Linked DNA regions of Homo sapiens. The protein of the gene in region 4 interacts with the protein of the main gene of each other region in a pairwise test. Each region holds a gene or a part of one and is shown on either strand. Other genes may lie near its edges.

The links.
Region 1: the proteins of TOLLIP (region 4) and ZRANB1 interact in binary tests that used the Homo sapiens proteins (3 or more experiments, as listed by UniProt).
Region 2: the proteins of TOLLIP (region 4) and CDIP1 interact in binary tests that used the Homo sapiens proteins (3 or more experiments, as listed by UniProt).
Region 3: the proteins of TOLLIP (region 4) and GUCD1 interact in binary tests that used the Homo sapiens proteins (3 or more experiments, as listed by UniProt).

What each region holds. Positions count from the first base shown.
Region 1 is NC_000010.11:124,944,906-124,948,920, reverse strand, and holds part of ZRANB1 (ubiquitin thioesterase ZRANB1), read right to left. Parts: intron 1-4,015. UniProt on the Homo sapiens protein: Ubiquitin thioesterase, which specifically hydrolyzes 'Lys-29'-linked and 'Lys-33'-linked diubiquitin. Also cleaves 'Lys-63'-linked chains, but with 40-fold less efficiency compared to 'Lys-29'-linked ones.
Region 2 is NC_000016.10:4,509,871-4,512,688, forward strand, and holds the end of CDIP1 (cell death-inducing p53-target protein 1), read right to left. Parts: intron 2,814-2,818; coding exon 2,702-2,813; 3' UTR 799-2,701; downstream 1-798. UniProt on the Homo sapiens protein: Acts as an important p53/TP53-apoptotic effector. Regulates TNF-alpha-mediated apoptosis in a p53/TP53-dependent manner.
Region 3 is NC_000022.11:24,544,841-24,548,855, forward strand, and holds part of GUCD1 (protein GUCD1), read right to left. Parts: intron 3,234-4,015; coding exon 3,068-3,233; intron 2,166-3,067; coding exon 2,074-2,165; intron 1-2,073.
Region 4 is NC_000011.10:1,299,213-1,303,227, forward strand, and holds part of TOLLIP (toll-interacting protein), read right to left. Parts: intron 3,579-4,015; exon of another isoform or gene 3,372-3,578; intron 801-3,371; exon of another isoform or gene 666-800; intron 1-665. UniProt on the Homo sapiens protein: Component of the signaling pathway of IL-1 and Toll-like receptors. Inhibits cell activation by microbial products. Recruits IRAK1 to the IL-1 receptor complex. Inhibits IRAK1 phosphorylation and kinase activity.

The DNA of each region.
Region 1 (4,015 bases), on a different chromosome or scaffold from region 4:
GGAGGAGTAGGATAAAGGTTTGCCCAGACCCTAGTTCCCAAAAATATTCATTCGTTCATTGATATAAAAATACCTGAGTGCCTAGTATGTATGTAGCAGGCACTGTTGTACATACTAAGATACAGCTTTGAACAAAACATAAAATTACTGGCCCTCAGGAAGCTTAAATTCTAGAGTAGAGAGAGACAAATAATAAACAAGATGATGAAGCATATTAGAAGTGTTATGAAGAAAATTAATGCTGTGGGGAGGGATAATGGACAGGGATGAAATTTTAGATACGGCAGTCATGGAGGACCTCATTGAGAAGGCAATACATGAGAAAAGAAGCGAAGGTGGAGAGCAATCCAGGCAGAGCAAACAGCAAGTAAAAGGCTTGAGGCTTATTTATAGGAAAAAAAAAAAAGGTGGCAAGAGTGGCTGGAATGAAATGGAAAAGGTGGAAAACAGATTAGTTCAGAGATAAACTATATTTGGCCCTTGAACAACATGGAGATTAGGGGGACCAATCTCCCACACAGTAGAAAATCCATGTATAACTTTTAACTCCCCCCAAAATACTGATAGCCTACTGTTGACCGGAAGCCTTACTAATAGCATAAACAGTCGAACACATATTTGTATATGTATTATACACTGTATTCTTGTAATACATTAGAGAAAAGAAAATGTTATTAAGAAAATCATAAGGAAGAGAAAATACATTTACCAACTCATTAAGTCAAAGTGGCTCATCATAAAGGTCTTCATCATCATCATCTTCACCTTGAGTAGGCTGAGGAGGGGGAGGAGGAAGAAGAGGCATTATTCTTGCTGTCTCAGGGGTGGCAGAGCTGGTAGAAAACTCACGTATAAGTGGACGCGCACAGTTCAGACCTGTGTTATTCAAGGGTCAAAAGTATATGGAGGGAAGCTGAAGTGTGCAATACAGAGCATGTAGATGGCCTTGTAGAGTTTTTGAGGGACTCTGGCTTTTAATCCAAGTAAAACAGGTGATCACTAGAGGGTTCTGAGAAGAATTAGCTCCTCTGATGACAGCAGATTGTACGGAGGGCAAAGGCAAGGGTAGATCATGGTTTGGACAAGAATAGTGAGAAGTGGTCAGAGTACAGATATATTTTGAAGGTAGAGCCAAAGAATCTTCTCAGAAATAGAAGTGGGGCATAAGAGAAAGAAGAATCAAGGAGGGCCAAGGCTTTTGGCACAAGCAATGGAATGAGAAATTTGCCATCAACCAAGATGAGAGCCTGGGAAAAAATAGATTTGAAGGAGAGATCAGTTCTGTTTTAGCATTACTGAGCTTGAAATGAGCTTGAGTTTTTAAACACTCCAGGAAAGATGCTGAATAGGCAGCTGGATATATGAGTCTAGGATTCAGGAATACACATTACAGCACAGATTTAATATGGTGTTCTTATCTAACCCTGTGTCTTTTTAAGGACGTATCTATGTACACAAATTGAAGTGCAATTTCATAAGGCAACTGATTCAATACAATAGCAGAACAAAAGCAGGGCATTAGGTAGTGCTGCTCTATTCTCTAGATACATTATTGTCTACCCAGTGAGAAAAGCAGTCTATGGTGAGTGCTCACATGACCGCCCTAAAAACCTGATGTACCTAAAAACATCTAGTACCAACTGCAGACATTCCAGAGACAACTGTACATTTACATTCACACCTCTACCTTTACCACCCTGGTTCTCAACCTCAGGCTCTACTACTGATATCAGGTTTTGGCACAGCTGTCCCCAACATCCTCTCACCACATAAGATAATATGACTTATGTGAAACTTAACACCCAACAGCTATGTCAATATGTTTGCTCGATACTGCTGATGTGTTAGTTGACATCTGCCCTCTCAACAACTGAATCTTCCTCATTCCTAGTTTATCAGCTACAAAGCTGACCTGAGGTTGCAATTTTTTTCCAACTTTAAATGGAAAAGTCTCACATTTTATACTCAGTGTATATACTACTTTAGAGATGTATTTTTTAAAAAACACTTAACATCAATAACCCAAAATACACTGTATCTAATGAAATCTGGGGAACATAAGGCAGGCAGAAAAGGGACGTAAAGATTAATTTTGAGTACATGTGAACTTCTGTTAGTCTTACTGCTCAAGCCTTTTTTTAAATTAACCCAACACAATGTAAACAAGTTTAAAAAAAGTATTTAACATATTTCAGTTATGTTTACACATCAGAATATGGCTATCCCATAGAAACAGGCCTATAATTATAACCTTACGTATAACAGTTCAGAATGACATTGTAGAGTTAATAGTAAAAATTATTTGCCAATAGGAAAGACATAGTCCACATTACCAAGAACCAAATACAATCAACCCTTGCCCCTAAGAATCTAGAAACTTTGCAGGTAGAAACAGCAACTTAATGACAAATCATTTTATAAATAAAACAACGTCAAATCCAATACTGGTCCTATTGGTAGAAGTTTTTGTTCCACTTTTCTTTTCTTTTTTTTTTTTTTTTTGAGACAGGGTTTTGCTCTTGTTGCCCAGGCTGCAGTGCAATGGTGCAGTCTTGGCTCACTGCAACCTCCACCTCCCAGGTTCAAGCGATTCTCCTGCCTCAGCCTCCCAGGTAGCTGGGACTACAGGCATGTGCCACCATGCCCGGCTAATTTTGTATTTTTAGTAGAGACGGGGTTTCTTCATGTTGGTCAGGCTGGTCTCGAACTCCCGACCTCAGGTGACCCGCCCAACTCAATCTCCCAAAGTGCTGGGATTAACAGACCTGAGCCACTGTGCCTGGCCTTGTTCCACTTTTAAATTGAACTCAGTGATTAAAATGCAAAGAGATGGGCCGGACCCAGTGGCTTACCCCTGTAATCCTGGCACTCTGGGAGGCTGAGGTGGGTGGATCACTTGAGCACAGGAATAAGATGCCAGCCTGGGTAACAAGGTAAAACCCCGTCTCTCCAAAAAAAATACAAAAATTTGCCAGGCGTGGTGGTATGCGCCTGTAGTCCCAGCTACCCAGGAGGCTGAGGTGGGCGGATGGCTTGAGCTTAGGAAGTCAAGGCTGCAGTGAGCCATGATTGCAGCACTGCACTCCAGCCTCGCGACCCTGTCTCAAAAAAATAAATAAAATGCAAAGAGGTACAAGGATGGCTAGTCGTCTAGTCAAAAGTAGTAAGGATATGTAGAAAAAGGCAGGACCAAGAAGAAATAATGTCATAAAGACAAACATGTTGATTCATCTAACTTGTGTGTTTCAAGGAAAGAAAATATTTCAAATCAGGTGTTCTTATCCTGAGATCCACTGACTTGAAGCAACCGGGGGTTGAAATGAAGCCCTGATTCCTAAAGGATTCTATGACCTTTAGTGAGGTTTAGTGACCTTCACTGTGAGGTTAAGAACCGTCACAATGAAGTCTAGTTCATTTTCATCTATAAACCTACATGTACTATAACACCACCTTGTAGTCCAAGTATTCATAGTACACTACTCCCTGAAAAAAAAAAAAAAAAAAAAAAAAATGATTTTAAGACTGTTCCAAAGGCATACAAGCAATTAAAAGACAATCACACCCAACATAAAAGCTCACAGATATGTAAAGATTCCATTTATATGAATATCCAGAATAGGTAAATCCACAGACACCAAAAGCAGACTGGCAGTTATCAAGGGTTAGCGGGTAGGGGTAGGGGGCAGTAACTGCTTAATGGGTACATAGTTTCCTTTTGGGATGATGAAAATGTTCTGGAACAACACAGAGGTAGTGGTTACACAATGTGAATGCACTAAATGCCAAATGAGTTGTTCACTTGCAAAACGGTGAATTTTTATGTTAAATCAATTTGATCTCTAAGGAAACTAATAACAAAACCCTTTTGTATCTCCTGTTTAAATTTTTTTAACTGACAATCATACTGTATGTTGCCCCTCAATTTGGAGCAGAAAAATCAGAGGAATAAAATGGGACAACACAGACAGAAGATAGCCCGGTATGTTTTCATCCCCTCATCCTCAGGATGGGAGGA
Region 2 (2,818 bases), on a different chromosome or scaffold from region 4:
AGAAAGGCAACCAATAAAAGCCAGATGCTAGAGCCTCTGCCTGACAGCATCCTCTCTATGGGCCATATTCCGCACTGGGCACAGGCCGTCACCCTGGGAGCAGTCGGCACAGTGCAGCAAGCCTGGCCCCCGACCCAGCTCTACTCCAGGCTTCCACACTTCTGGGCCCTAGGCTGCTTCCGGTAGTCCCTGTTTTTGCAGTACATGGGTGACTATCTCCCCTGTTGGAGGTGAGTGGCCTGTAAGTCCAAGCTGTGCGAGGGGGCCTTGCTGGATGCTGCTGTACAACTTCTGGGCCTCTCTTGGACCCTGGGAGTGAGGGTGGGTGTGGGTGGAAGCCTCAGAGGCCTTGGGAGCTCATCCCTCTCACCCAGAATCCCTCTAACCCCTTGGGTGCGGTTTGCTCAGCCCCAGCTTATCTCCTCCTCCGCGCTGTGTAAATGCTCCAGCACTCAATAAAGTGGGCTTTGCAAGCTACCTCCTTCCCTGCCTCCTGGCACCGGGTGGGTCAAGCCACCTCCCCATAGGAGAGTCCCTCAGAAGCAAGGGCATGTTATGTCTGTGTGGGGAGTGGACATCGTCCATCATGGCTCCCAGCAGCCACCTCCTGCTCTGGGTCTACTCTCCAGCACCTCTAGTCTCCAAAGCAAAGTCACTCTAACCGTCTTGCAAAGATCTTTAAAGTGTATCCAGCACTGCTATTTTTTAGCTCAGAAATACCTTAGAGGTTTCCTACTTAAAAGGTTTTTTTAAAATATATATATATATTTAAAAATAAGGGTTTTAAAAAAGCACATATTTGTATTTAAACAATTCATTCTCTAAAAGAGAAACATGAACTTAAATAATTTTATTAATAGGAATCTACTACCTGTAAAAGTTTTATTTCAAAAAGGGTTAAAAAGTAGGGAAACTCTTTAAACTACTGACCAAGACTGCCACCTTCATAATTCAGATGAGTTAGTGCAGAGATGGCCAGGGCCAGAGGTCGCCCAGAACCTGCGTGTGCAGACTGCGCTCTGTTAGTCTTCTGCCTGTCAGCCTCAGCCCAGTCTGTGTTGCTTAAGGGTGCGCCTCCCCAGGGCTGGATGATGCTGTGCTCAAGCCTGCGGGTAGGAGGGCTCCAGCTTGCAGATCCCATGCGTGGATGCCATATATAGATGGTTGAAACCAGCATCAGAGGAAGGAAGGTGACCTTACAGCCACTGCCGAGACCAACGTGTGCCCTGGCCCAGTCACAGCTGGAAATCCCAGGGCTGGTCTACACCCGACTCTGGTTTGGTTTAATTAGGTCCTTACGTGTTGGTGTTGTCCCAGGCAGTTGGCATGGCATCAGCACTGAGGGTGTGAGACCCTGAGGACTCAGCCTCCCGTCCTGCCAGTAGACTGCCTGCAGCCCCACCCTCTTTCCCTCAAAAAAGAAGGAAGCCAGGCAAGAGAGCAGAGGCCCAGGGCGGGGGAGTGAAAGGGCCAATTTAATGAGAAACTACAAACTGAGACTGGGCCACGATTCACAGTGACAGGAGGCCATGCAGTGGCAGTGCGAGACCAGGAAGGACAGTGGCAGGATACAGTGGTCCAGGTGAGCAAGTTCACAAACCATTCAGGAAATAAAGACAGGGCGAGGCTGGTGTCCACCAAGGCAGTTCTACCACTTGTGGCTGCTCCTTCCTCGTCCCTAGCCCAGTGTGCCTGCAGGAGCAGGTGTGAGCAGGCACAGCAACAGCCTGTCAGCTGGGGTGAGGGGCCCGGCACTTACAGGGAAGAAAATCCATGGAGAAGGCTCTGCACATCCAAGCGCACCCACAAGGGGGACCCTCTGCCATCTCTTGCCCAGTTGGGATACACCAGCCACCAGGCAGAGGTCATACCCACACGCAGTGAGGACACAGGGCAGACGGGAAGGGGCTAGGCTCAGGGGCTCCTTCCGGCCCCAGCAATACAGGGTTCACAGAGGCATGGCCTGAAAGGGGGTCTGCACACTGACTCAAAGGGACAAGTTCCTTCTTAGCTACCAGGGTCTGATCATTCACCCAGGTACAGTGTCCTCTCTACCTGACACCAGGCAGCTCTCGGGCACTGGGACAGGGTATTAGACATCCTGGGCTTCTATACCTGAGAGTTCTGAGGGCCAGAGTTGGCAGTTTTACTTCCAGCCACCATGCCCCACCTCTAGCACCCCAGAGGCGCAAAGTACCCAGAAACAAACCCAGGCTTTGTGACCCTGTCCTACGTGGGCCCACCTGACTCCAGACAACTTACCCATTCTCGGCCCAGCAGGTCAGAAACGCCTGTGGCCACAGGCCTGGGGACTAACTGGCTAACTGCTCTGGCTGCTGTTGGTCCCAGGGGGAAAGAGTCTGGACTGAACCTGTACCTTGTTTGGAAACAGAGGCATCAGGACCCCAGCAGGAGACCCCTCCCAGCTTATCTTCCCGATCACACACACCAAGCAGACCAACAACACACAAGCTCATTGTCAGCCCCCTGCCACCCACTGACCCTTGGCCTTAAATCCCAACAGAATTTTTGCCAGAAGAGTCAGCGGCTCAGGTAGGGCAGGGTGAAGAGGACAGGACTTCTAGGGGATGGTGGCACGGCTCCCAGCCCCAAGTGGGAGCGGGAAAGTGACCACTGAGCACAGGGAGCAAAGCACAGGGGGCCAGACTGACAGGCGGGGGAGTCCCGAGTCCCAGCTCCGTTAGCACAGGCGCTTGTACGTGTAGATGTAGGCTTTGCAGCTGGGGCATGTGTGCGTCACATCCTTGAAGTCATTGATGAGGCAGGGGATCAGGCAGCAGCCCAGATCACATCTGAA
Region 3 (4,015 bases), on a different chromosome or scaffold from region 4:
GTCTTTACAAAAACATTTAAAAATTTACCAGGCGTGGGGCGTGGTGGTATGAGATTGTGGTTCCAGCTACTCGGGAGACTGAGGCAAGAAGATCACTTAAGCCTGGGGCTGTAGCAGTGAGCTGTATTGCAATATTGCGCCACAGCACTACAGCCTGTATGACAGATTAAGACCCTGTCTCTTAAAAAAAAAAAAAAGAAAAGAAAAGAAAACACCCAGAGGGACAGAGGGCAGATGGGGCTGTGGGCAGGGGGAGCTCTAGGCCAGGGGCTCCTGCATCTTTGCTGGAGGGGCTGCTCACCCACTTGGGGCCTTCCTTAGGAGTGGCAGCATCAGTACCATGTGGCCTGACCCAGCTTCAGCCACAGCTGAGTCACGTGGCAGTTTGGATTGCTGCCTTGGCCAAGGAAACATGCCATTTTTCCATTTGGTCTTTGAAACAAAATAGCTGGCTGAGTTCCCAGTGGCAGTGCACAGGAGTGGGATTTCAGCTATAGGGAAAAAGCAGGGGCTTGGCTGGAAGGAAAAACTACAGGCTTCAAGGAATAACAAGCATGGGTTCAGATCATGGCATGGCCAAGATGCTGGGGGTGACCTTGGGTGTCTCTCTCCTCCTCAGTTTCCTCCCCCGAGAAGCAGAGATAGCAACAGCTTTCCCACTCAAGGAGACAGCACCTGTTGAGGGCTGCTAAATAAACATTTGCTGCCTTTCCTTCCAACATGTGCCCATGTGGTCATAGTATGAATGGAGATCCCACCCCACTATATTCTTTTTTTTTTTGAGACAGAGTCTGTCTCTGTTGCCCAGGCTGGAGTGCAGTGGCGCGATCTCGGCTCACTGCAAGCTCCGCCTCCTGGGTTCATGCCATTCTCCTGCCTCAGCCTCCCGAGTAGCTGGGACTACAGGCACCCGCCACTGCGCCCAGCTAATTTTTTGTATTTTTAGTAGAGACGGGGTTTCACCATGATCTCGATCTCCTAACCTCGTGATCCGCCCGCCTCGGCCTCCCAAAGTGCTGGGATTACAAGCGTGAGCCACCGTGCCCGGCCTGTTTTGTTGATTTTTAAAGCCCGGGGCAGTACTCTTGGAAAATGTCCCACATCCTGGATTTGCCTTTCTGTTTCCTTGAGGGCAGATTCAGACAGAGTCTCGCTCTGTCCCCCAGGCCGGAGTGCAGTGGCACTATCTCGGCTCACTGCAAGCTCCGCCTCCTGGGTTCAGGCCATTCTCCTGCCTCAGCCTCCCGAGTAGCTGGGACTACAGGCGCCTGCCACCACGCCCGACTAATTTTTTGTATTTTTAGTAGAGACAAGGTTTCACCGTGTTAGCCAGGATGGTCTCGATCTCCTGACCTCGTGATCCGCCCACCTCAGCCTCCCAAAGTGCTGGGATTACAGGCGTGAGCCACCGCGCCCGGCCCCCAAACCCCCATTTTCTAAATCACCTATCATGTGATTATACTACGTCAATAATGAAAATATAAATCCGCAAAGAAAGGGAAAATCTGAGAAGAGCCTGTCCAGGACCTAGAGGCAGCAGGTCTGAGCCCCACTCCCACGTAGCCCAGAAAAGAATGTGACCCACATCTGGGCAAACTGCACCCAGAGTCTTCCTGAATCCAGCCCCAATGCATACAGATGAGAAGAGGAGGCCCTTGTAAGGTCACAGCAGCCCTTACACACTGGGTCCTCCCTGTTCCCCATCCCTTGTCAATCACTGCACCAGCACATTCCTCTTAGGCCATCGCCCTTTCATTAGGGGCCTTGTGTTCTGTCCCATGCTGTCTTTCTGCAAGTAGCCCAAGGGCTGGGTGCAATCTCTCTCACTCACCTATCCCTCCAGCACCTGCTCAGGATCCACCCCTGGTCAGAGCCTGGGTCATGTAGCCCCAGTGAGCTCCATAAACCAAGGCTCAAGGGGGCAAGTCAGTGCCCACAGCCACCCGGGTAGCCAGTTCTGCCTGGCTCCAGAGTCCTAGCCTTTCCTGAACACCATCCCGAGGCCTCCCCACTGCAGATCTGTGGGTGAGCAGGCATGAGAGGAAGGGCAGGTAGGAAAGTTGGGGGGCTCACCATTTCTCCACCAGCACCTTGCAGGCCTTTGCTTGTGCAAACAGCTGATTCACCCGGGTCTCTTCTGTGTCAAAGTGCTTCCTGTAGAAGGACTGAACAGAGAAGAGGGGGATGGAGTGGCCACCACCCAGGCTGCCTTCACTCCATTTAGATGAAGGAAATAAAGAGCGTGTTACAGAGGCAGAGACAGCAGGAGGGCAGAGGAGCCCCACCTGCCAGGGCAGACGGTACATGCAGCAAGCCAGATCAGAAAGCTGTCTGTCCTAAGCAGGAGCAGGGAAGCAGGACCACACAGAGGCATGAGGATGATGCTTGAGAGAGGGGTGGGCAGCTGGGCTCAGGTCAGCTCTCTGGGGAGGATCGATCACCCTTGGGCTTGTACACTCTGGCAGGCATGAGCAGGAGCCCGTAGCGAATAAGCAAGGGGGATGAGGCTGAACCACCTGGGACAGCTCAGCTACAGCTTGGCTTAGCTAGGTGTCGTCCACGGAACACACTTTGCTGGCATGGCTATGTTGGCATTATTTTTCAAAAGGCAAAAAAAAGAAAAGATGGTATTTTGGTTTTCTTCTAGACTACCAATTATATAGCTTAAAAGCTGGCTCTCCTGGTGAAAAGTAAAAAAATGTGCAAATGATGGCCGGATGAGGTCAGTGATGTTCTCAGAGGCCCTGGGCCTGCCTTGTGCTGAGGACAGTAGGAAAGAACGTAGGAAGTGGCCTCTGCACATTCTGAGGGCTGTAGAAGGCAGGTGGACAGGAGCCAGGACTCAGTACTCAGATCCTCTGGGCAGGCCCGACTGCAAGGGCACCTGCTCTGACTGGCTCCCAAATCCTGCCTATAGCCTCTCTGCTGCTGCTCCCTGGTCTCTGCACACCTGGGTATCTACCTGGGTGTCTAGCCCTTGACTGTTCCCTCTTCCAACTACTGGAACCAGGTGGCCTTATACCTCTGTGTGGCCCCACATGGGAAGGCCTGGTGGCTGGTCGCTCACCTGGTTCTTGTAGCCCTTGTCGACACCCAGGGTCTGGGTACAGAAGCGGTGCCTCACGCCAAAGTGGTGCATCAGGTAGGCCAGGTCGATGGTCCAGATGCTCCTGGTCAGCTGCAGCTTCTGCAGGGCTCTCTCAAACTCACTGTCGTCCAGCTGGCCCAGGTACCTGCAGGTAGACGAGCTGGGGAGCTCAGCTTGGTCTTGAGGGTCAACTGGTCTGAGTCACCCTCCACCCACTGGCCCAAGAGCCCCGTCACAGGTCCCATTCCCCAGAAGTCTCCCTCCTTCATCATGAGACCCTAGGTCCTGCCCACACACTGCCCAGGCTGCTTGGGGCACCGTCCTGGCTCCAGAGTTGCAGGCCTGGACTCTGCTTCTCAAATCTATTGTGTCTTGTGGGCTGTGACCTTGAGCAAGTCATTGTCTTCTCTGGCCTCTTTAGCTTCATCTCTAAAATAAGGTCCCTGATCACATCAGTGGTTTTCAAAGTTTTAGGCAAAGAACGCTTTTGTTGAATTTTCTCTTGCTGAGATTCCCAGGATGTAAAACAGATGAAGATGCAGCTGCCCTGTGGTTCCAGGAAGCCAAATGAAAAACTCTTGTACAAGGTGACGGCTACAGTCCCTCTTGGCTCTCACTGTCCAGGTTTCTGTGATATTCACACAGCCTCAGCTTAACGGTCAGCACCCCATTCTCCCAGGAGCCAGAAACTGGGGAGTGGAGGGCCTCCTATCCCAGTCACAGAACTGCCTTGTAGGACAGGCCTGGGCACCTGGGACTTCCTGGCCACCCCAAGCCCCCAGACATTACTATCATGGAGAGCTGGAAGGCCTGGTCCACCCCTTGCTCACTTTTGCAGATGGGACTAGGACCAGGTAGAAGCTTGGCCTCCTGCAAGCCCCAACCAAAGATAGCTACATGGACCATGGATCCCACCCAGGTCTCTCC
Region 4 (4,015 bases):
ACCTGAAGACAGGAAGAGCAAGAGAGGAGACGGAGACCAGGCTTCAGTCCTCCCCGTACAAATACTGGTTACGCAACCTGCTGCCCCGCCTACCAGGGAGAGGCGGCTTGCCTGCTGCTGCAATGCCCTCGTTTCTCAACTTAGAGCAAAGCCCTTCAAACGAGGAGGGAGTGCTACCAGTTCATGCTTCACGAGTCACAGGGGAGAGAGTCCAGGTGCTGAAGTAAACCCTATCGTTTCAGTGACGACACTCGGTCCTTCAGTAAATGTCTATTTTGAATTTATTTTTTAAATTCAGTGCTAATCCTAAAATTTATTTTTGCCATATGATGATGGAGGAACTATTTCAATGGTCACATAAAAATATATGCTTTACCCTGGTTCAAAGGCTTGGAAATATGAAAACAAAAATGATTACTCCCGATACATAATGGATATTTTTCTAGAATTTTGCTTCCATGTACAAGATGCACATACTGAGTTCAACACTAACAAGTCTAAATGCCCGTGTGAAGGCCAACAATTCCACTTCAGGAGCCAGTCCCCTGTCAATGCTCACTCGGGCACGTGAGCACAGGATGCCTGAGGCTGCGTCACCTGTGCCGTCAAAACGCCCCGTCCACCAGCCAGGCACATCCACCCAGCGCATCGCCACGCGGCCTCACCAGGAGCCGGCGGTCCCTGCCGCGAACACATGGAGACTCGGGGGACGGAGGCGGAGGCGGAGGTGCGGCACGACCTGCTGCAGGGAGCCATAAGGAGGCCTCTGTCGACACCAACTCTGGAGGAGCATTCAGGAATGGAACTCGAGGGAAACAGGCAGGGAAGATTCTATTTCAATTTATTTATACTTTTATATCCTGCTAGTTATTTTTAGAAACTTTTTAAAAACATTCGTGAATTACTTTTAAAATAAAAAGGACAGGGTAGGGCTCTCATCCCACAGAGCTCACAGCATTTTATCTTCTCTGAAAATAAAAGCTACTTTTATAAATATTAGTCTGTTTTAAATATAGTTTTAAAATGTAACTTCAAATTTCTTGGAATTGCTGATTCTCCTCCCCCATGTGCCGCTCTCAGAGGATCACGACGCAAGCCTGTGACTGACGACCATTCCTCCCTCACTGACGCCAGAGCTCTAAACCACTGCAGCGTACCTTTCCACACGAAAGAAAAGAGGTCTCCAACATTCACTTCTATTTAAAACAATTTCTCTTCAAGTCTAAGTTTTAGTTTTGGCACAGAAATAAAGTCTTAATTCTTCTTTTTTGTCATGCAATGTGTGTAGTCAATCCAAAGCTAATTTTTCTTTTTAAGCACACAAATTAAACACCCACTGTGAATATTCCTGTTGGTGACACGTCTCCAACGGAGAGAGCCGCTGCTTCCTTGGGCCACACTTTCTGCCCGACACCTGTTAGGAATACGTTTCCGACTGAGAGTGCCGCTGCTTCCTTGGGCCACACTTTCTGCCTTGACAGAGCCCCGGAAGAGCCCAGCTCAGCCCAGGACGTGGAGTCCTGAACACATGCAGTCCTGGCCTCACGCCTGCCAGGAGACATCACCCCAAGGAGCCGCACCACAGTCGCCCCTGAAGCACGGCTGGCCACACGCAGGCGGCAGGAGACCAGGGTTTCCTGGCCACTTCCATGACTGGCCCCCTGCGGAGCCTTTTTAAACCTTCTCACCGTTCCCACCCCATGACGCTGCGAGGCTGTGGAGGTGCTGTTTGTGTCTGTGTGCCACGCATGCACCTGCACTTGGCATGTAAACACTGCAAGCAAGGCTCAACGAGTCTCAGCGCTAACGCCAGGTTAGCATAACTAAGTCGAACGAAGTTCAATTAAAAACTAAAATGCTTCTAGCACTTCATGACTATGCGCTGAGCAGCGCTGAGTGTAATTTATTTACATAAATTGTAATGTATCAAATCACACGTAGAAATAAACAACTTATATAAACACAATAAAAAATATCCTTAGTGAACTGAAGCTTTTGCTTGATGTGAGAAAGTACCTTTTAACTGGCTGGCTGGTATTCTTTCAGCAAACTGACATCATTAGCGATGGGCTAAATACGTTCTGTGGAATTAAATCACAAAATGTCGACGATTCTCATTCAATTCTCCAAGCCAGAGTCTCACACCAGCACTGAGGATCCCACACAAACGGCATCCGCAGGCGCCTGCCCACCCTCCCCACCCACCTCACAGCAGGTCTGAGATCGCACATGTGTCGCGGGCTTCCGAGAACTCCGTATCCATGTGCTGGGACACCCAGAAAACCCAGGGACAATGAAATACTAAGGAGCAAGAAATCCAGGAGCTGTGCTGGGGAGGCACACACGGCCGCCAAACCCCAGAAGTTTCCTCCCCCAAGAACCCCTTGTGCCCTCTCAGGGTCAATATCACCCCCACATTGAGAACAAGCGTCAAGGACTCCTGAAGCCACAAAGCCAGCCCACGGAGGCCCCAACACAGAAGCCCAACTAGTGAAACTCTGTACCCTGAGCCCTAGGTTTCTCCAGTTCCTAACATGGCCATGATTCAACGTGACTTTCAGAGCTGGGACCCACAGCAGGAAGACCTGGGCTGGGCTCGTGGCTAAAGGGACAGAGGAAGCTAATGAAACAGAGAGAAATAAATCCCCCGTAGTAGGAACATCTAGGGATATGGGCGGAAGTCAGTCTCAAAGCCTCTTGGGCGAGGTCTGAGTGTCTGCTAGGAAGGGAGCCCCAGACTCGGTCAGGGCCCCAGGACTCACATAGAACAGCACAGTTGGTCCAGATGAAGCTGAGAACCTGGAGCCCAGGTCATCACCAGCCTCCCTGCTGTGTCTGAGGGGCTGGCCCTGCCTTGAAGGCCCTGCAAGGGGCCTGCTCCAGGCCACTGTCCTACAGGGGATGTCTGCTGCTAGGTTCACACCCAGGTCAGAGCTCAGTCTGGCCCAGGAGAAATGGCCCATCCACCCGATGCCCGCACACCTGTGTGATTCACATCCAGATCCGGGCGTGCAAGAGGGCGGGAACGCGCACCAGGGCTGAGACACAGGGCCGTGGGCAGTCAGGACAGACCCTGGGTGGCCCTGGCGGTCCCTCTGCCCAGCTGACTGACCCCTCAGTGCGCAGGGTTTCAGAGACTGAAGTGCCAGCCTGCACATGCCCCAGGCCTGCACACTCACGGCCAAGAGGGGAGCCCCGTGGAGGTGAAGGACTCACCGACACTCACTGGTGGCCACTGCCATTGCCCTGTAAGTTTAGCATTTTCCAAAATAAGGCTAGAAGGAAAACTGCAATTCCCCATGCCCACTCAGCTGCTGGCTCCCTCACCCACCACCCTTCACAGCACCAGCATCCAAAAGCTGGACCAGTACCTGACCCTGCAGCCCCTGGCACTCCAGCCAGCCTCGGCCTCACGCTCCACACCAGCCTCCTGACACTCCCCAAAACCCACTCCAGCCAGCCTCGGCCTCATGCTCCACGCCAGTCTCCTGGCACTGGCATGTTCAATAAACAACCCTTGAGCAAATAAGTGGCATTTCATGCAACTGCTCTTGGCAAGGCAGCTCCCACGCCAGTGTGGACGGGCAGTGGTGACTTTGTCCCCAGTTCCCACATCCTCCTCCCACGGCCGCTCAGCAGCCCCCTCCCAGGAGCCCTCGCTGAGCACTCATTCGCCGTGCCTTGTCTCCCCTTCCGGGGCCTTCCTCAGACAGGGCTTTCCTTCCCTCTTCCTATCACCCCCTCCCCTCTTCCTTTAATTATACAAAACACAACAGGCGCTTCAAAGCCAACATGCCGGGAGGTTCCCTGGCTCTGCTAAAGTCTCAAAGCAAACACTAGAATTTGTGTAAGGGAAGCTGGGAGATGACAGTATTGAAACGAACCCGTGTAAGCTGAAGAGCGGTGAAAGGGAAGAGTACAGGACAGAATGAGAATAAGCATAGATTATAAAAGCTGACTACAGAACAAGCGACTTTAAATGGGGTCTCTGCCAGGAACTCCACTGCAGGCAGCC